Regions from separate parts of the Homo sapiens genome. Here region 2 is linked to region 1. Evidence: fine-mapped expression QTL. Tissue or cell type: whole blood. Region 1 holds a variant in brackets; the other region holds the start of a gene. All regions are shown on one strand. Distances are from middle to middle.

Region 1 (4,375 bases):
ACTGGTTGCGTGTCCCAGAACGTGCCAAAAGCCTGCCTCGTGAGCACGGCAAGAGCTCTGCCAGGGCAGTCCCAGCTGGCCCAGGCGCCGCAGCGCTCCCGAGGGCCGTCGAGCAAAGGCGGGAGGCGCAGCCGGGCTGTCGGTGGACCTGTAGGTATCAGGGCTCCTTGGTCCCCTCCTGCGGGAAGCAGGCACCGAGTGGGGCTGCATGTAGACGCATGCGAGGGTGAGAGCTGCGGCGGAGGACGCTGATCGCGGAGTGCAGGCGAGGGCCCCAGAAAGGTCCCGCAGGTCGCCTCGCTCGTGGCACGGGCTCGGCAGCGTTGTGGTTAGTGACACGGAGGAAGACAGAAAGCCATATGCACAGCACGCAGAACAGGAGGAGGGGGGAAGAAAGAGCAGGCACGGGGCAGGCAGAGCCGCAGCCACGCCGCCGGGATGCAGCAGGCAGGGCCACCCACGAGCAGGGCGGGGCCCTAACCTCCGACCCAGGCTGGTCGCCGCAGATGGGGGCAGAGATGTGAAACAGCTGCAGAGCGGGACAAGGGTGCTGCCGGCACAGGGCTGACCACAGAGCACATCAAAAGAGGTAGGGCACCCAGCGCAAGGGAGGTGATGGGCTGGTCAGCAGGACATCAAGCCGGTTCTGGACCCTGCTCTGAGGACGGTCCCTGACCCAGCCTCTGAGGACCAATGGGAAGCCAGGGGTAGAGGGGTTGGGGGAAACCAGGCTCCATTTTCCAGTCTCAGCAGGGGGCCAAGGCTTGCGGCTCTGCGGAGGCCACACCATGAGGTTTCCAGGGTCATAGATGCCCTTTGGTCAGCGCTGTCTGCCGCTGCACGGGCACCCCTCCTGTTGGGTGTCTGGGTAGACTTGGGGGTCTGTCCGGCTGGCGTGGGCACCTTTGGGAGGGGGGTGTGTGTGGCGGGCAGGCCTGGGCTGTAGTCACCCCAGCCCGTGCTGGTAGAGTTGGGGTCTGTCCGGCTGGCGTGGGCACTTTTGGGACGGGGTGTGTGTGGCAGGCAGGCCTGGGCTGTAGTCACCCTGGCGCACGCTGGTAGAGTTGGGGTCTGTCTGGCTGGCGTGGGCACTTTTGGGAGGGGGGGTGTGTGGCGGGCAGGCCTGGGCTGTAGTCACCCTGGCGCACGCTGGTAGAGTTGGGGTCTGTCTGGCTGGTGTTGGCACCTTTGGGACGGGGTGTGTGTGGCAGGCAGGCCTGGGCTATAGTCACCCTGGTGCACGCTGGTAGAGTTGGGGTCTGTCTGGCTGGCGTGGGCACTTTTGGGAGGGGGTGTGTGTGGCGGGCAGGCCTGGGCTGCAGTCACCCTGGTGCATGCTGGTAGAGTTGGGGTCTGTCCGGCTGGCGTGGGCACCTTTGGGACGGGGTGTGTGTGGTGGGCAGGCCTGGGCTGTAGTCACCCTGGCACACGCTGGTAGAGTTGGGGTCTGTCCGGCTGGCGTGGGCACCTTTGGGACGGGGTCTCTGTGGTGGGCAGGCCTGGGCTGTAGTCACCCCAGCCCATGCTGGTAGAGTTGGGGTCTGTCTGGCTGGCGTGGGCACCTTTGGGACGGGGTGTGTGTGGCGGGCAGGCCTGGGCTGCAGTCATCCTGGTGCGTGCTGGTAGAGTTGGGGTCTGTCCGCTGGCGTGGGCACCTTTGGGATGGGGTGTGTGTGGTGGGCAGGCCTGGGCTGTAGTCACCCTGGTGCACGCTGGTAGAGTTGGGGTCTGTCTGGCTGGCGTGGGCACTTTTGGGAGGGGGTGTGTGTGGCAGGCAGGCCTGGGCTGCAGTCACCCCGGTGCACGCTGGTAGAGTTGGGGTCTGTCTGGCTGGCGTGGGCACCTTTGGGAGGGGGTGTGTGTGGCGGGCAGACCTGGGCTGTAGTCACCCTGGCCTGCGCTGGTAGAGTTGGGGTCTGTCCGGCTGGCGTGGGCACCTTTGGGACGGGGTGTGTGTGGCGGGCATGCCTGGGCTGCAGTCACCCCGGCCCGCACTCAGACTAGTCCTGGCATCACCACTCTGGGGCGAAGTTGATGCAGGAGCTCAGGGCCCTCATGCAGCACTGGGTGGGTCATGAAGCTCAGGGGGCTTCAGCAATGGAGGAGGCGACCCTATCCCATCCCAAGTTGGACAGCAGTCCCAGCGGTGGGGGGTGGGGGTATAGGGGGAAGCAGGTTCGGATTGGGTGGGTAAGGAACCCAGAGGAACAGACCCCTCCCTGTGCACCTCTCCCCAGAGGTGGAGGCAGGGAGAGATGGAGGCAGGGAGAGGTGGAGGCAGGGGGCAGAGACAAGCCTCAGGTCATCAAGAGTTGAGGGCTGGCATCTGGGATACAGGGAGGATGGGGAGAGGGGAGGGCTGTGCGGGTGGGGGGCGGCTCTGTCTCCCCTTGGCTGTGCCTCCCTGGGGACCGCTAGGCATACGCACGGCCACTGCACCCCTTCCTCCCTGCCAGGACCCTGCCCACTGCGGCGACCCCGAGGCTCAGAGCAGGCACAGGAGCCCCTCCTTTGAGAGACTTCCTGCCAGCTCCCCTCTGTGCTTCTTGATCCACATCATGGGTCAGCGCTGGTTTCTTGGCAACTGCTAAGATTTGTAAGGGCAGGGAGGAGATCTCACTCCTCCGTCTTTGGGTCCCTAGCACCTGACAAAATAAACTGCTGGCTAAGGAAAGATGGAGGGAGGGAGGGAGGGAGGGAGGAAGGAGGGGAGGAAAGGAGGGAAGGATAGAGGGAGGAGGGAAGAAGGAAGAGGGAGGA[A/C]GAAGGGAGGATGGAGAAGGGAGGAAGGGAAGGAGGGAAGGAGAAGGAGAAGAATGGAAGGAGGAGGGAGGAGGGAGGAACTGGACCGAGGCTATGGCTATGGAAGAATCATGCCCTGGGCCATCCCAGGCAGGCTGAGAAGAAAAAGCTGGAACCAAGTCTGGGCTAGTCTGGTGGTTGTGGGGCAGGAAGTAGCCATCAGGGTGGCAACCAGAAGAGCAGGGAGCCCAGCAGAGGAGGGAGGCCGGCAGAGGAGGGAGGCCGGCAGAGGAGGGAGGCTGGCAGAGGAGGGAGGCTGGCAGAGCAGGGAGCCCGGCAGAGGAGGGAGGCCGGCGGAGGAGGGAGGCCGGCAGAGGAGGGAGGCCGGCAGAGCAGGGAGCCCGGCGGAGGAGGGAGGCCGGCGGAGGAGGGAGGCTGGCAGAGCAGGGAGGCCGGCAGAGGAGGGAGGCCGGCAGAGGAGGGAGGCTGGCAGAGCAGGGAGGCCGGCAGAGGAGGGAGGCCGGCAGAGCAGGGAGGCCGGCAGAGGAGGGAGGCTGGGGACAGTGGGGGCAGGCCGGGGACAGTGGGGGCAGGCCGGGGACAGTGGGAGCAGTGTCGGGGACAGTGGGGGCAGGCTGGGGACAGTGGGGGCAGTGTTGGGGACAGTGAGGGCAGGCCGGGGACAGTGGGGGCAGGCTGGGGACAGTGGGGGCAGGCCGGGGACGGGGGGGCAGTGTTGGGGACAGTGAGGGCAGGCCGGGGACAGTGGGGGCAGGCTGGGGACAGTGGGGGCAGTGTCGGGGTGAGGATCTGGTCTCCCGACACCCCTTCCCGGGAGCGAGACCTCAGGCCCAGTCTTCACTCCCCAGCTGTGAAATGGGTGAGAACAGAGGGTGGCTGAGACTCAGGGCTGTTCAGGGTGGGGTGGGCTCTGGACCCAGCAGGCCCGGCACCCAGGCCAGGGCTCCAGGGGAGGCCAGGTGGGGCGAAGGCCAAGAAGGGGCCGGGGCTGGTCAGAAAGGGCTCCTGGTGACCAGAGCACTTTGCCTGAGCCAGCGTGGGAGGGAGGTGGGCTGGATGAGCCAGGGAGGCGCCGGGAGGGGCCTTGGCAGAGGCGACTCCCTCCGGCAGCCCCCAGGCCACTGAACCCTGGGTAGTGAGAACCGGCAGGGGAGGCTGCAGACGGAGGAGTGGAGGCTCCTTGGCTTTGGGGGCTCTGAGTAGAAGCACCTAGGGGGTCCCTCAAGAGGTCCCCAAATGCTGCCCCATGGTGAGGAAACAAGGAGAGGCCCGGCAGGGCCCCCCTTGGTTACAAAGGGCTGCCACTGTGAGAAGGCAACACTGCCGGCTGGGGCTGGGCTTTCTACCTCACCAAGCCTCTTCCCACCCAAAGGGCCCAGAGAGGGGCAGCTGCCCCCCACAGCGGGCACAGCACCTCCTCCCTGTGTGATGGGGTGGGGCCCACAGTCTCCTTTCTCGCGGCCTCCCTGGGCTGACCCTGGGTCCCAGCTCGGCCATGGGGGCTTCGGCATGTAAAGCCCATGGGGGGCAGAGCCTCCGGCCCCTGCCAGCTTCTGGCTGTCTGTGTCGCCCCCAGCACTGGGCTGGTGCCGTGGAGGGAGGCTCCGCCCTCCCC
Region 2 (4,375 bases), 20 kb before region 1:
CTGGGCTTACAGCCGCCCGCCACCACGCCTGGCTGATTTTTATATTTTTAGTAGAGATGGGGTTTCACCATGTTGGCCAGGCTGGTGTCAAACTCCTGACCTCAAGTGATCCACCTGCCTCGGGCTCCCAAAGTGCTGGGATTACAGGTGTGAGCCACCGCACCCGGCCAAAATTCTCAGTTTTTGAACCACAGGGTTCTGCATTCTCATTTTGCTCTAGCTCCAAAAGTGAGGCAGCCGGTCCAGCCTTCGGGCAGTAGAGGGCAGGAGGGGGTGGACCCCAGCCTCCACCTGCCTGTCCTCTTCCTGGCAAGGTTCCTGAAGCTCCCAGCGACGATGCTGGGGCTGCCCTTCTGCAGGCCAAGGGAAGGACCTCAAGGGCAGGAGGACACAGGCATTGCACCTGCCGATGCAGTGCCTGGACGGGTGGGTGAGCGGAATGGCTGCAACCTGGAGGCGAGACCCTACCACCATGAGGGGAGCCGTTTCAGGATGGCCTCAGGATGGAGGCCGCATGGTGAGAACCGCAGGGCTCTGCCATGTGCCACTCTGCAAGGGGGACTTGGGGGCCCTTAGGGACCCCCAGGGAGGAGGCGTGGGGAAGACACAGGCATGGCCTGTTCATCTCCATGGCGCTGGGCCTGATCTGGTTTTAGCCCTGCCCATCGTCTGGGCCACGGATCCCTCTGGTGCCTCCACTCGTGGGGCTCTGAAAGCCTCTGCTGGTCTTTGTGGTGTGTTTGGTGGGTGGGGGGCTCGCTGAGTCCCAAGGAGGCGGCCTCCGGTTCGGCCCCACCCTGATGGGTCAACACTCTGGGCCCAGGGCCCTCCCAACCCCTGGCCTCTCTCCAGCCCCTCTTTGCCTTGGGACCCCCTGTAAGTCCTTGCTGGTTGGATTTCTCAGGCCCAGCCGCTGGCCAGGGCTCCCTTCTCCCATTCTCCTGCGCTGAGGTTTCCAGCAGGGAAGCCTTCGCCACCTCTGTGGCTGCCCTACTCTGGCCCAGCTTAAGTCCTCCCCTGCCTCAGCTTTTGGGGTCTGGCTCCTGCAGTCATGCATCCCTCCTCCTGACCCTGGAGCCACTGCGTGGTCACTCCCAGAAGCTGGGGACAGTGAGGGCTGGAAACAGCCTCCATCCCTCCCCTCGGGCTGGCCTATGCCTCTTGGGAGGGTCCCTGAGGCACTGCCTTTAGAGCCTGGGGACACGAACCACTCGGTGGTCAACTCCAGCGACCAGAGCACGGAGAGCAAGGGGCAGCGGGGGGACGAGGCGGATGCCCGACAGCTCGGCATCAGCAAGGCAGTCCAAGACAGAACAAGGCACCCGACGGGTAGAACGCAGGGGCATCCCGGGCACAGCCCCCAAAGCCACCTGGGACCCACAGCTGTTTGATGTGCTCAAGGCTATGACCCCAGGCTTCGAGAAAAGACTCCACCAAGTTCCATGAGCACCTGTAGGAGAGCCGGCCTCTGGGTAGATTTCACCCAAAGAAGCTAAAACGCTCACGTGGTGCTTATGGGATCACAGACGTGTTTGTCCCTGATGCTGCAGGAGAACTGGCCACTCACAGGTGGACCTGATGGCCAGAGCTACTAGCGGGGACCAGGGGTAACATGGGTCCCCCTCCCCGAGCCATGAAGAGCTGCCTGCGGCCATCTTGGCCCTCGCACCCCGTCTCTGTCACCCCAGGCCCCTGTAACTTGCTTAACGCTTCCTGAGGGGTGGTTTGGGTTTTTTTTTTTTTCTTCCTCTCCTCTTGTAGCAACAGATTAAAAAACAACACCCTGACCCAAGCCGAGACAGGTTCCAAACCTCAACCTGCAGCCGGAAGGGGGAAGTGAAACTCGGCTGGGGGTGGGGGCTCAGAAGCCGCCCCAGAAAGCACTGAAAGCCACAGCACGTACACCCACTCCAGGGATCTGCCAGCACCCTGTGGGGCCCAGACTACAGGCTGATGGCGGAGGCTTCGAGTGACCCGGGTGCCGAGGAGCGGGAAGAGTTGCTGGGGTAAGGGTCTGCGGCGACGCCCGGCGCCCTGTGCCGTGTCCACGGGTGCATAGTCCTTGAGCTGCATGGAGGGTGGAGAACTGAGGTGCCTGATGGGGAATCTGGGGCCCCCAATGGGAGAACTTGGATGTCCGATGGGGAAACTGGGGACCCACAGACAGGTGGCAGGAAGTCTTGCTGGGACCCCCCTCTCACAACAAGGGTGGAGGTCTCTTCCGCCTGCCTCTGTGCCCTGGACTCACTGGGGGAGGCGCGTGGGATCCTAAGCCCATGGTGGATGCCTGAAGCGAGGAGACCCCAAGACGTGTCCTGGACTGCCAGGGAGGAGCTGGGGACTGTGGGCCCTGTTAGCTTGGGAAGAGGCAAGGTGGGGGCTGGGGAGCAGCTGTTCTGGGATGGGTGGAACTGGCCCGGGCCTGGCCACCTGCCCACAGGACTATCTGAGAGGGGCTATCCTGCCTTGAGGGTCTGGAGGCCGCCAGGCTTGGGGCCCAGCAGGCCTCAGGGCAGGGCACCCAAAGCTGCCCTTGACCTGCGGTAAAGGACAAGGCCAAGGATTCTGGCAGGTGCCTGTGCTGGGTGCCAGGCACCGTGTGTTGGTTGGAGTGGGGACATGAGGGGGCATGGCAGAGGTTGTGTGTAGGACTGCCAGAGCTGGGCAGAAAAACCCCGCTGCCAAAGGCCTCCTAGCGGGCAGCTGTACTCTGTGGTACCAATGGGCATCCAGCCCTGTGCTGGGGTGGGTGGAGAGGGCTAGCGGCTTAGTAACTGGGCTCCCTGGCAGAGGGGAGCTGCCGGCCAGCAGGCATCCAGGCATCACAGCTGAGCCTCGCCAGGGGAACCCGAGTTGCCCCCGGTGCAGGTCCCAGAAGAGATGGGAGGGCTCAGGGCGTGCGGTGCAGGGACAGGTAGGGCTTTGAGGGGCAGAGGGGCGACGTGCTAATGGTCAGGGGATGGGGATCCGGTGCTGGGGATAGAGGCCGGCCTAGGAGCAGGTCAGCGGGGGCTGTGGCCTGGTGTGCGGAAGGGAAGGCGCTGGGGCCCAGGTTGCAGAAAGAGTGTGATGCCCGCAGCCACACAGGACGGACCTGAGAGGAGGCCCAGGGTGACGCTCACATACCCCAAAACTGCAGCCAGGGCTGCTACCAGTCTCTGCCTTGGTGCTGACAGCAGAGGGTCCCGGTCTACCCGACCCGGGGCGGTGCAGGGACCACCTCCCGGCCTTCACACAAAGCTCCTGTGCTGTTGGTGGCTGCAGTCACTGTCCTGTGTCTGTGTCCTTGGTGGCCGTCACATTGCTGTGGGTCTGGTATGTGTGAGGGGTCTGCATCTCTGACTTCTTGCTGCCAAATCCCACTTGGGTACAGGTGCGGGGGGCCACTGAAGGGACCCCGAGTGCCGTGAGTGGAGTGGAGGCTAAGCAGAGGCCGGGGCTGGCTGAGGGCTGGGTCGGGACGTCCGTGCCTGTCCCCAGGGAGAGGTGGGAGGATGCCCTGCCCAGGCCGTGTGCAGGGAGACAGGCTTCTGGGTGCACAACAGCTGTGTCCCAGCTGCAAAACGGGCCCTCCTGTCAGCACCACCCCCAGCCCTGGACTAGGTGCTGCTCCTGGTCACCTCATGCCCATAGAAGGGCAGGACATGAGCCTCTGGGCTGGGGCACCCCCGCCTTCCTCCTTGGCCTCATCCTTGGCCACCCCCTCCCAGCTGTCTCAAATGCCCTGGATCCCCCGGGCCAGGAGCGGGGAGGGGGGGTTGGAGCGGGCATGGCCAAGGCACAGATGATCCTGGGGCATCTTGGTGCAGATCCTGGGAGGCCAGGGCTGCACCTGTGCCGGGGCTGTCAGGCGCTCCAGCTGGAGAGCGGCGGTTCTCCTGGGCTCTGCAAAGCCTGGACCCCCTCCTTGGACATCCCCTGCCCCCGCGAATTGCATGGGGTGCGCAGCCAAGCCTGACCTTTCAGAATGAAACTGAGAGCCCCAGTGGGGTAGGCTTCTCATTTCACAAGGTGACTAAGGGAACCGGGGAGTTTCCTGTCTAGGATGGGACAGAAGTCCCCTGCACCCAGGCAGGGATGTATGGCCTGGGAAGCCCCCACACGGGAGTCCCCAGGAAGGCCCAGGCTGGGCAGGCTCAGCTGGGGCTGGAGCAGTGGACAAGACAGCCCCCCGTGCATGTCACAGAGTGCCAGGTACGCCAGCCTGTGACGGTCTCAGGACATGCCCTCAACACTAGGTCCAGGGCAGGCCAAGCCCCTCCAGCTGGACAAGTGGGTCCAGCCCCTCAGACTGTCGCATGATGTGGCCCCTCCCCTCAGACTGCCCGGGACGGGGCCAGATTCCTCAGAACCACCCCTCCATGATGTGGTCTCT

What was found.
Region 2: it holds the start of LSP1, and the variant in region 1 is fine-mapped to the expression of LSP1 in whole blood (INTERVAL, PIP 0.92).

What each region holds. Positions count from the first base shown.
Region 1 is chr11:1,870,824-1,875,198 of GRCh38, forward strand. The region is part of intron 1 of LSP1 (lymphocyte specific protein 1); the gene reads left to right. Among named protein-coding and RNA genes, the nearest start is that of MIR7847, 7.0 kb to the right of the region's middle. RefSeq lists enhancers at 1-316, 317-854. The variant A/C (reference allele first, on the strand shown) is at 2,761.
Region 2 is chr11:1,851,192-1,855,566 of GRCh38, forward strand. It overlaps LSP1 (lymphocyte specific protein 1), which reads left to right and starts at 1,893. Exons shown (of 11, transcript NM_002339.3): 1 at 1,893-2,006. The coding sequence starts at 1,954. RefSeq lists enhancers at 624-673, 1,665-1,984, 3,835-4,264.